3 linked regions of the Homo sapiens genome follow. The protein of the gene in region 3 purifies or fractionates together with the protein of the main gene of each other region. This does not show direct contact. Each region holds a gene or a part of one and is shown on either strand. Other genes may lie near its edges. The genes, in order: LZTR1, TJP2 and NUDT12.

Region 1 (3,747 bases), on a different chromosome or scaffold from region 3:
CCCACTTGCTGCCTTGTACTGGACACTAAAGCCCTTTCTGGTTTGGAGGGTTCTCATTAAGGCTGCAGTAAATGCTTGTGGGTAGGCATCTCTTCTTCATTTCATTCCTTCATTTGACAAACATTTATGGAGTTTTCTAGATGCCAGGATACAATGGTAAAAGGAGCACAGGCCCTGCCTTGACTGAAGAGATGGATAATAACCAACATCTGTGTGCCTCAGGAACAAATGAAGATGGTAAGAGGTATGGAGGGGAAGCAATGGTCTCCAGTTGGTCCAGATGGCCAAGTAAGGCCTCAGTCACAAGAAACATCAGAGGAGGGGCAGGAAGGTGAGAGGAGAGAATGGGCAGTGCAAGGGCCTGAGCAGGGGGGCACTTGGTACAATCCAAACATAGCAAGGCAGCCCGTGCCGCCCCAGTGCAGTGAGGGACTGAGGGCAGAGGAGCAGCAGACTCTCATGAGGACTTGGGCTTTTACTCAGAGAGGCAGGGAGGCATTACAGGAGGATGAGCCAAGGAGGAGCATACTCTGACTTGCTTTTGTAAATGGGCCCCACCGGCTACTCCTGGGGAAAGAGAGTGGGAGGAAGACAGGCTTGAAGCCAGGGGACCATGCCCAAGGAGGCTCTTCTGCCCAGTATGCAGATCCTGGTGGGGTCCAGACTACCCCACCATCCTCAAGCCCGCCCCCCAAGGAGGCCTACAGGACCAAGGCTGCAGAGCCAGTAAGAGGCCAGACCTTCCAGGGCTTCATGCTAGTTCCTGGGGCTGAGAGGCAGGGCTAGGACACATGGACACAACTAGTCATGTGCAAATACTCCACCCTCTGCATAAGGAAACCAGCCACAACTTAAGTGGAGACAGTTTATGTGAAAGGAGGTGTGCCCACCAACAAAACATCACGTTGTTGCCTGATGTTTGGAGCAATTTGGGAAAACCCCCACAAAAAGTGAAAAATGCATGAAATAAATAAAACTGTGTCCTCCATACCGATGAGGCACAGGGAAAGAAAAGTGCCTGGCAGGGCTGGCCGCAAGGGTGGTTGTGTTTCTTTCAAGGCTGCATCTACTCAGAAGAGGGACATTTCCACATACTGAGCATGTGCCACCCACTGGAAGCTGTGCTGAGGACCATGAGTGCAGGATCTCATTTAATCCTCACCACGACCAGGGAGGTGAGTGCAAGGAATCTCACAGATGGGGAAACTGAAGCTTAGAGGCACCAGCTAGCATCTGAAAGGACAGTAATGGAGCTGGACAGGCCCAGTCCCTGACCACAGTACTTCTCCCTACCTGGTCCAAACACTGATGCTGAGACTCACTCACCCATTGTCTCCACCAAATACATAAATGGCATCTTTATAGGCCACCACTGTGTGCTTGCTGCGCCTGGAAAGAAAGGAGTGGAGGGCGGTAAGGACAGGACCCTCCTGGGGGGCACCCAAGGAATGGGACTAAGCAGGAGAGCTGCCACGGAAGTTAGGTATCACCTCTCAACTGCTAAGATCCATCATCTTCTAAGATAACACCAATCATCCTGCAAGTGAGGACCCCTGACACGGCTCCAGGACTCTCTGGACTCCTCACCCCACCTCAGAGCACCTGGGACCCCAGCCCAATATCCACAAACACAACTTAGTTCCAGTACCCTGTCCCGGGACATCGGGCTCTGGGACTCCCTCGGAACCCTCTCCCCTGCCCTGAACAGCGTCCTGTACAGCACCATCCACCTCATTACCAGATCCTACCCCAGGACACCACCCCCCGGCTTCGCCCCTGGACCCGCCCTGGGACCCTCGCAGATCGCCCTTCCTGTCCTCAGGACCCCATGAAGCCCACCGTACCGGGCACCCACGAACTCGTCGCAGGGCGGGAGGCGCCGCCAGCGATGCACTGTTTCGAAGGGCCCGAAGTTGAGCGTCAGGTACTCGACACTGTCCGAGCAGCTATGGTCGAAGTCCACGCTCGGGGCTACCTTGGACCGCGCGCCGCCTGCCAGGGCCGCAGCCCCGATCTGCCCCCCCGTGCTGCCCGGTCCAGCCATCCCGGGTCCACGCCGGATCGGCCGCGCTGTAAGCCCAACTTGCGGCCACCGCCCCGGGCCGGCTGGAGAAACCACATTTCCCGGCGAGCCCTGCGCTGACGGTGCGGCACGTCCGGCCAGCGCCGCACTTGCGCCCTCCAGCTCTTCCCGACAAGCCTACCGCTTGCCGAGACACCGCGGGCGAGCGCAGGATGCGGTTGTCGACCGCGCGGCGAGCGTGGGACCTTCTGGGGAGCGTTTCAGGCTATGTACTGGCGCTGCGTTGTCCCTTCCAGTGAATGCAGTGTGTCGTCCCTAGCCCCGTCGCGACTGCTCTTCCCGGCGCCTCCCAGGCCCACGCAGCCCGAAGACCCGCGGCCGGCTCGCAGTTCCCGGCATGCCCTGGGTCTGCGCGTGGCTCCGGCCTGGATCGTCTGCCGCTGCCGGGATCCCCCATGGAGGGTTCCGGGCTCGCAGCGGCCTCTGCAGGCGGCTCAACGCTCCCTTTCCTGCTAGCGCCCTCAGCCCTGACCCCCAGCAACTCCCCTCTCCCCTTGGCTTTCTTACTGACTGAGAGGCAGCCCGGCGAGGAGCCTCTGGATTCTCATTCCTACTTAGCAGGGCCTCAGCTCCTTCACCTCCGACATGGGGATTGAGAATGCTCCGGCTATGAAAAGCATGGGGTCTGTCTCAGGACACAGCTCCCACAGCCCTAAGTGGGCAAATGCCCCAAAGTGTCAAGCATGAGCCACCTCTGAAGGAGCATTTACTATCTCAAGACCTTTGGGCATGTTGTCCCTTCTACCTGGAATACCCTTCCTTCAAAACTCAGAGCCAAAAGCAAAAAGCGTTCGCTGATCGCAGAGGGGGAGAGGGATGTGGGAGGGCTTGGGGCGCAGAATTAGTTGCTACCTCCTCTGGGCGTTCACAGGCCAAATTTCCTTGGTGTGGCACCTGGCATTCTGTGATTGTGCCTGTTTCCCTGTGGTCTGGTCCTGTGCCTATTGGCCCAATTACACTGGGAGTCATACAGATCTGCAAATTTGTGCGTTTTAATTTTACGGTAATGTTTAACGTGTTGCAGGGTTCTTCAGGGGACCAGTCCCAATAGAGGGAGAAGAGGCAGGGCTTGTCCTGCCTCCAGTGCCAGCTGTCAGTGGCAGCAGAGGCCTTGAGGGTTGAGCATCTTCTGGATCCAGCAGAGGCCTCCCAGGAGGGGAGCCAGGTGGCTGAAGGCAAGCACTGGGAGGGCTCAGGTTCTGCCCTGGGGGATCCTGGGACTGGAGATTGGCACCTGCCCCCAAGGCTTGGCCTGTGCCCTTGGTGCCCCCTTTGCCTGCCCAAGTCTACTGCATGTGAGCTCAGGATCCTTTCCCCGTAAGCCAGGACATGTCGCCAGTCCTGCAGGAGTGAGGGGAGGAGGGGTCAAGACAGAAGAAAACAGGCTCTCCACTCTGGGCACCCTGAACAGCTGGCCCTTGAGGACAGCAGGGGGTCTGTTCTGTGCCAGACCCTAGTGCCCAGCAGGGAGGTGTACTTGGACAGAGGGAGATAAGACCATTGGGTGGAGGGTCTGGGCTGACATGGGAAAGGCTCAGAACGGTCAACATGAAGGACACACGTACTTGCTGTGCAGCACAAACAGCCTTCACGAAGGCAAGAGAGAGAAACGGAGAGAAGGCCAAGGAGAGAGCATGTCATTTATCATGTCCCCTTCTGGTCCT
Region 2 (3,747 bases), on a different chromosome or scaffold from region 3:
AGGACCCAACACTTAAGAGTTTTCAGCACCCGTTTTGTTCCTATTACTAGCTACCACCATTTACGTAGCATCCACCACATGCCTTGTACTCTCTGTCATTTCATTCAGACCTCACTCAGCCCGGTGAGGTGGGCGCATTACTGGCCCCATTTTCTATAGTGGCTTGCTCGGGTGAGGTAACTGTTCAAATGCCCTTTATTCCCAGCAAGAATCCCCTGAAGGGAATGCATATAGGACCAATCCCACTCTTTGCTAAATTTCTGTATTGCAGAGTGTGCATCGGCATCATACATTCCCTCCCTCAGTCTCAGGAATCCCGACACAGATTGCAGAGTAAAGTCTAACAGTTTCAGGTCCACTAGACCCCTAAATGCAGAAATTGAATCTTGTTCATCTTTGTATCCCCCACAGTGACTGGCAGGAGTAGGGGCTCATTCAGTATTATAATATCTGGATGGTACTGAAAAAGTTACAGCAGCATTTCAGAGGGGAAAGTTCCCCTTCATCAATCTGCATAAGTAGCTCTGAAAAGAAATAAAGTGGCCCCACTGCAGAAGTAGTTCTGAAAAAAACACAAGAAACACCTCAAAAGCCACCGGTGCTTTAGTAAAGCACCTCCGCTTCTGCCATCTCCCCACAATGAGGAAGCTCCAGTACCCTGTCCACATTTCTAAATGGCACTCATCGGATTCTTAATGAGTTGCAGGCTTTCCCAACGGGACTGTGTGACAGAGCCACGCTCTTGCTCATCTGCGTAATCCCCACACTGAAGTGGAGTTGTTCATGAAAACTTACTAAATAATCAAATTTCATCCTCTCAAGCAGGATATGCAGTGGTACTTTGCTACAAATACATTTACCACTACGAATTTCTCACTTCAAGCGATCTCCTGCCCAGGTGTGTGCTCTCAGAAAATTACATCTCTTTCTGAATTACGCTGGCAAAGGTGGACCTGTTTTCCCAAAAGGACCGTCAGCACACCCAGCACAGACCACCTGGGGAGCTGAAGAAAACGACCTCCCTCCCTCCTCCCCGCTGGGATTCCCCGGGCTGAGAGCGTGAGTGAGAAGCGCAAGGCAGTTTCTATCATGGGATGACTCTCCGCTGGGAACTTCAGGGAAACCACAACCATCATTACTCAGGCCAGACAGCTGCCAGAAAAGCAGCCTAGCCTAAGAACTGAAGCTGAAATAGAGGTGGGAGGCTGTATTCCATTACTAAGCGCGGGAGCACTCACTCCCAAGTTTGTCCACATTTCAAGAATGTTAAAACCCTGTGGTAGAAATCCCTGATTATTTATAACTTAAACTACCGTGTAAAAGCAGAAACTTGACAAATGAAGACATAAAAAGAACTGGTGACAGGTAGGCTAGTACTAGAATACAAAGCATTCATCACACTCCTCTTTTGTGGGTCCTTCCAAACCTCCATCCCCATTCCCTACTGGAAAAAAAAAAAAAAAAAAACAACTTTTACTTCTATTACAGACGCAGCTGATTGAAAGGGAAAAGGGATTCTGCTCTGTGATGAGTTTTCAGTTTCTCTCACGTACACAAGCCTGTAACTTTGCATCAATACCGAGTGTGGTTTGAAATAGAGAAGGAAAACACAAAGACATGCAAGCGACACAACAGACACGAGATGCCTCCAAGCCAGCAGAAATCCAGGACACCGGGTTCAAGACAGTGTCCCCTACTCGCGCCTTAATCTCCAGCCCAAGTGACTTCAGAGTAAAGGTTCCAGGAGCCCCGGAGGCCACGAGTCATCAGCCCGGACGGTGAAACCTACCCCTCCCCTGCGTCCCACGTCCGGATGGGAGAATCCCAGCTTCCTACGGCGCATCGGGGAACAACTTCAGAGCAGCACGCGAGCAGAGCCCCCAGCGCTCCCACGCTCACGCTCACGACCCTCCTCCCAACCGCGCGGCACAAGGAGGCACTTACGCGGAGCCAACCTGACAGCTCCCGCCGGGGTGGAAACCCGCGGTCTCCTCGCACCGGCATTTCGGACACAGGTCCCGCGTAGGCGCGCAGCTCCGGACCCCGCTTCTGCTTCTGCTCCTGCTCCTACTCCTCCTGGGCACCACCGGACAGTGCTCTGACCCGCAGCCCAACCGCCGGGGTGCCGACCCGCGGGGACCCACCCCTTTGTCCCTCCTCCCGCGGCGGCGGCGGCGTCAGCCCGCCCCCGACCCGAGCGTGGCGCCTCCGCGCTGGCCGCCCGGCCCGGGAAACTGTCAAATTGGCCGCTACCACCCACGCGCCTGCCGGGGAAGGGCTCGCCGGCGCCGCGCCTTCGAGGCTCCTGCGGCGAACCGCGTCACGCGCGACTCCTGGCCGGGGGCGGGAGGCGGCGGCGGCGGCAGGAGAAGCCCAAGGCCCGAGCGGCCCGCAGCCCCCACGCCTGCACCCCTCCACCCCCGCCAGCCCGATGGTTCGCTCCGCGGCGTGCACTGGAGCAAGCAGGTCCCGCTCCGAGCGCGCGCGCTCTGGGAAGTGCTGCAAGTTTGGAGACCTGGAGTGAGCTCCGGGCGCTGCTGGCCCGACTGTCCGCGGTGTTTCCCCGGTGAGGTCGCGGGGGCATCCTGTAGGAAGACTTTTTGGCGAGGTTCGCAGGGCCTCACACAGGCAGCTTCAGTTCTCCTACGAAGAGTCGAACTGGGAAAACCTCAAAGTTTTAGGTCCTGTCTAGAGGCCTGCCCGGCTAACCAACACATACACGGCCTTGTACCCCACATTTCTCAGCCCAACAACTGCCTACCCGAATTCCGAGGGTTATAAGATGTTCGTATTAAATATTAAAACAGGACTTTTCAGGACAATATATTCCAGGTTATCTCTTTGGCACATTTCCAACAACTCCAATAAAGAGATTGAAACTCCTCTCCCATCATCAGCTTATAAAAGGTTGCCAGTAGGTCACAAGTGCTTATCTGACAGGATTCATCTAATGCAATTCAGTGTGCTTATTCCTTTCGAAGTCCTCCATGTGCAAAGAATTGTGCAGTGACGTTAAGTGTCTTTATTTTAAGAGCATATAAATTAATTTGGAGAATCCAAACAGGTACCGATTAAAAATATAACCTTGGGTTTGAAATCTTAAAAAACCATCTTGTAAGAGAATAGTTTTGCCTGCCCTGCTCTTCCCTTAATTGGAAAGCAAAACTCGTCCTAGGCTCACAAGTAGAAGGTAAAAGGTGTGGTCTGTCCCAGAGGAGATGCAGATGCTGGGCTCTCTCCCTGAAAAGTTGCTTCACTTCCTGCCTGATCAAAACAAGTCTAGAAGTTTCGTGGAAAAACAAGTCCAGTAGATGCCTCTCCAGAAGTGTTATGCTTCTGGACTCCTTTGGAGTAACTAAGTCCACGCCTCTGGATAAAAAGCACTGTGAGTAACGTTTCCCACTTTGCCTCGAGTCTCCGGACTTAGACATTTTGGTTGTATTCCTGATGTAAGGCATTGCTCTCCTGATCTAAGCACCTATTTATAAAATGTTTCCCAAATCTGGCCAGGCACGGTGGCTCATGCCTGTAATCCCAGCACTTTGGGAAGGCAAGGCAGGAGAATCACTTGAGCCCACGAGTTTGAGACCAGTCTGGGCAACATAGTGAGACCCCATCTCTATTTTTTAAAAATTGTTTTAATCAAAAAAAAGGAAAAAAAAATAAAATATTTCCCAAATTAGGTGGTGCTGACTAATAAAAATGATAGCACTTGAAAGGTGGCCACACCTTAATGATGTGGGCTTA
Region 3 (3,747 bases):
ATTTCTATCATTCTAAGCAATAAGATTTTTAAGCTAAAAAGACAGAAAGGTTATAGCCCATAGTTTTTGATAGCTGCTGTCTCCTGGGTTCTGAAAGGGCGATCTGGCTGATGAATTGCATAGCAGGAATAGTATGAACAAAATTTAGGGAAAACAAGGAGTAAAGATTAATTGTCTCATTTTGGAGCTGTTCACCTTTCCTATTTGTGTCTTTCTGCTACTTATAAATAGGTTAAAACTGCTCACAGTCATGGAAACACTTGGATGAAACCTAACAGTGGAAATCTGTTTAGAAATTAAATTACCAGAAGTAATATCTACATGACAGAATAATTTTTGATTTATTCTAGAATTTACTTCGCTGTTCCTTTCATATTGAAATTTCTACATACGTTAAAAATACTATGCATAACAAAAGCTACAAATTTTCAGGACTTTATTTTGAAGCACTGCTGTACAGCTCCTGTACTGATCTCCCTTCCAAATTGTCTTTCTCTTAAGTTTATTTTCCAAAAACCCATATTATAGTTTTTTCAGCTAGGTTTAGTTTGAATAATATTTCACTGTCTCATGTTCTGGGGTCACCGTCACTCCCTCACATTCTCACAGGCCGCGCCAGGTAACTGCAAAATTGTCCTTCAAAAATACAGCGTCATTCACTACCTCCAGGGCAATGCTTATGCATATGCTATTCTGTGGAGATGGGAAGTGGAAAGTGTACACTTTTCCCTCTAGCTTTCTCAGCAGAAAAGCCATCTAGAAATAGTACCATTATTCATTCCAGAGAAGCACATAAAGTCTAACACCCAATTCTACTGTTTGATTTACTTTTTCAATTCTCATTGACAGGTTATAGAAGGTAAAGATTTGAAGGCAGAATAAAGTGCTGCCCTTGTTTTCCAAGAAGCTCAAGGACTATTCCGAGAAATCATTTAAAAGAATATTAGATGTAAAGGGACATAAATTTTTAACAAACCAACATCCACTTTTACTGACATGTAACCCGGGGCCCATGACTTCCGCATGCTCACACAGACCGAATGGGACAGGACAGGACCTTAAATATCGCTCTGTCACTGAAATCACTGACCATCAATTAACGAATTTCATCCACTCCCTGGGCACTCAAGACCAATTAAGTGCCACCCGTGCACGGTCTCTGAAAATGGTAAAATGCCTTAAGATATTTTACTTTCTTGCCACTACTGTGAGATTCCTTCTTTCGAGGTGAAATCACACCCTAAGTAGCGCTTCCTTTTCCCCATCTCAGCTTGGGCAGGAAACTCTACGACCTCAGTACCGCCGCACCTCCGCCCTGTCGCGGGAGCCCCTGCAAATGCGTCCGTGGCTCCCGCGCCTGCGCCCACCAAACCACTACGAGGCTCCGCCACACAACTCAGCAGGGCCACGCAGGGCAGCGCGGGAACCAAAGAGCCCAGGGAAGTGGTCACCGCCCCCAGAGGAGGCAATGAGACGACTAACTCCCCACTGCTTCTACTAACCCAAAGGTGACCACAGTAGAGGCAACCAGGATGCAGTCCAAAGATTGGGATATCCCACTCGCTTTTCCTGGAGCCGGATGCAGTCTTCCCGACTTCCGGTGGAGATCCGGGGGTGGGGGGGGGGCGGGAGGGGGGCCCCCGCGGTTTTATGGGAGATGTAGTTTGAAGCCCACAGGTTGTGCGCAAGGGAGAAGGGGTGGAGATTGGGGGTGGAAGTGTTTGGGAGCCGGCGCGGGAGAGATCGCGGTCTAAAGGATTGGAGCTGAATGAAGGGCTGAAAATCCTTCTCCTGAGACTGTGATGTGTAGATAGAACGTGGTGCAGGCGATCGGAAAACTGTAGGCCTAAGGAAACGATTTTAAATTTTCCAGCGTCTCCCACCCAACTCCTAGCCCTCTCTCCAATACAGTCCAATGCAATTGAGTGCTCAAAGCATTCTTTCCTGTTAAATAATCCTGGACTATTGACTAGACCAAGTCACTCTTAAACGAGATATTCGGCCTCTGTAACACCTTAATCATTCACCCCATGGGAAAACTGGTATCATATACTGACGCCTAACTTATTCAGTAGTCCTTTAAAAAGTATGTATCAAGCGCGCAAAACACCTCCTTGGGTTGTGAGGTGTAAATAGGATAATGTATCCAAAGCTCTTAGGATGTTGTGAAGTGCAGAGTGGGCACCCACAACAAAATTATTGTCGTTATTTTTTATTTCAGTTCCTGTGCTTTTATGCTCCAAAACCTACAGAAGTTATGAGTCCGAGATTACAAAACTAGGTGTTGGCGGTCTTCTAACTTCCAGACCAGGGCTTTTTCCTTTACTAAACTCTCTCCTTGGTAATCAGCAACAGCTACAGGGGTCTCTTACAATTGATCACTGTTTCCCACCCAGATTTTACCCTTGGAAGCTCCTTCTCACTGTGAAGCTGTATGCACCAGTTGACATTGATCATGAGGGCTTCTAACGCCCTGTGCTGCTGTTTTTTTTTTTTTTTTCTTTTTTTTAGATGGGTTCTCACTCTGTCACCCAGGCTGGAGTGCAGTAGTGCGATCTTGGCTCACTGCAACCTCCGCCTCCCGGGGTTTCAAGTGATTCTCCTGCCTCAGTCTCCCGAGTAGCTGGGATTACAGGTGTGCGCCACCAGGCCCAGCTAATTTTTGTATTTTTAGTAGAGACAGGTTTTTGCCATGTTGGCCAGGCTGGTCTGGAACTCCTGACCTCAGGTGATCCATCCGCCTTGGCCTCCCAAAGTGCTGGGATTACAGGCGCGAGCCACTGCACCCGGCCGCCCTATGCTTCTTTATGTGACTAGTTGTTTTCAGCCTTTAATGATTTCAGTGACCAGACAGGTGGTCAGAAAGGATTAGTTACTTCACTTGGAGTACCCAATCTTTGCATTCAAACATATGTTAGATTAGTATAGTGAACCCTCGTGTATTAATGATCCAGAGTCAACAACTATTAATATATAGTTCTCCCAGTTGTTAGGATTGTTTTGAAGTAAATTCCAGACCCCATATTGTTTTGATGACAAATATTTAAGAGTAAACTTTTTGGAAATATGTATTATATCTAAAATATAAGGGCTTTGAAAAACAACACAACTTCAATATCCCTAGTATTACAAATTTAACAATAATTCTGTAATAACATAAAAGAAACATTCAATATCAAATTTACTCACTTGCCTCAGAAGTTTTATATGTTTTTCAGTTGATTCATCTGAACAAAGTCTCCACATCACATTTGATTTTTAAAAATCTATGGATTCCTTCCTCTTCCCCTTTTTTTCTGGCAGTTTATTTACTAAAGAGTAATGATCATTTGTTCTGTAGAATTTTCCACATTCTGAATTTTGCAGATTTTATTCCTGTGCTGTCCTTTCCCCCTGTATTTCTTGCAAACTGGTAGTTAACTTTATAGAATTACTCAGATTAAAGTTTGATTTTTTTTCACAAAAGACTTTATAGGTGTTACAGTTTACTTTGTATTGAATTACTTCAAGAGGCTTACAACTTCTGGTTGTCTCTCTTTTTTTAATGTTATACTTGATCATTGGGTTCAGATGTTGTCAACCTGATAACATGTATGATAAATAATAATATAAATATTATAAAAATATGGTAAATGTTTATGATAAATATATGACATTGATATATAATTATGATAAATATAATTATATTATTTAAATATTAAATTTATGATAAATATATTATAAATTTTTCCATCAACTTTTCAGCTA

The links.
Region 1: the proteins of NUDT12 (region 3) and LZTR1 purify together in Homo sapiens (affinity purification with mass spectrometry; 3 studies listed by BioGRID and IntAct, with this or other methods). This does not show direct contact.
Region 2: the proteins of NUDT12 (region 3) and TJP2 purify together in Homo sapiens (affinity purification with mass spectrometry; 3 studies listed by BioGRID and IntAct, with this or other methods). This does not show direct contact.

What each region holds. Positions count from the first base shown.
Region 1 is NC_000022.11:20,980,669-20,984,415, reverse strand, and holds the start of LZTR1 (leucine-zipper-like transcriptional regulator 1), read right to left. Parts: upstream 2,120-3,747; 5' UTR 2,045-2,119; coding exon 1,845-2,044; intron 1,390-1,844; coding exon 1,327-1,389; intron 1-1,326. Other genes in the region: AIFM3 (apoptosis-inducing factor 3), read right to left, coding at 3,385-3,424, 3,649-3,669. UniProt on the Homo sapiens protein: Substrate-specific adapter of a BCR (BTB-CUL3-RBX1) E3 ubiquitin-protein ligase complex that mediates ubiquitination of Ras (K-Ras/KRAS, N-Ras/NRAS and H-Ras/HRAS).
Region 2 is NC_000009.12:69,172,630-69,176,376, reverse strand, and holds the start of TJP2 (tight junction protein 2), read right to left. Parts: upstream 2,101-3,747; 5' UTR 2,005-2,100; coding exon 1,945-2,004; intron 1-1,944. UniProt on the Homo sapiens protein: Plays a role in tight junctions and adherens junctions. Acts as a positive regulator of RANKL-induced osteoclast differentiation, potentially via mediating downstream transcriptional activity.
Region 3 is NC_000005.10:103,561,201-103,564,947, forward strand, and holds the start of NUDT12 (NAD-capped RNA hydrolase NUDT12), read right to left. Parts: upstream 1,590-3,747; 5' UTR 1,503-1,589; intron 1-1,502. UniProt on the Homo sapiens protein: mRNA decapping enzyme that specifically removes the nicotinamide adenine dinucleotide (NAD) cap from a subset of mRNAs by hydrolyzing the diphosphate linkage to produce nicotinamide mononucleotide (NMN) and 5' monophosphate mRNA.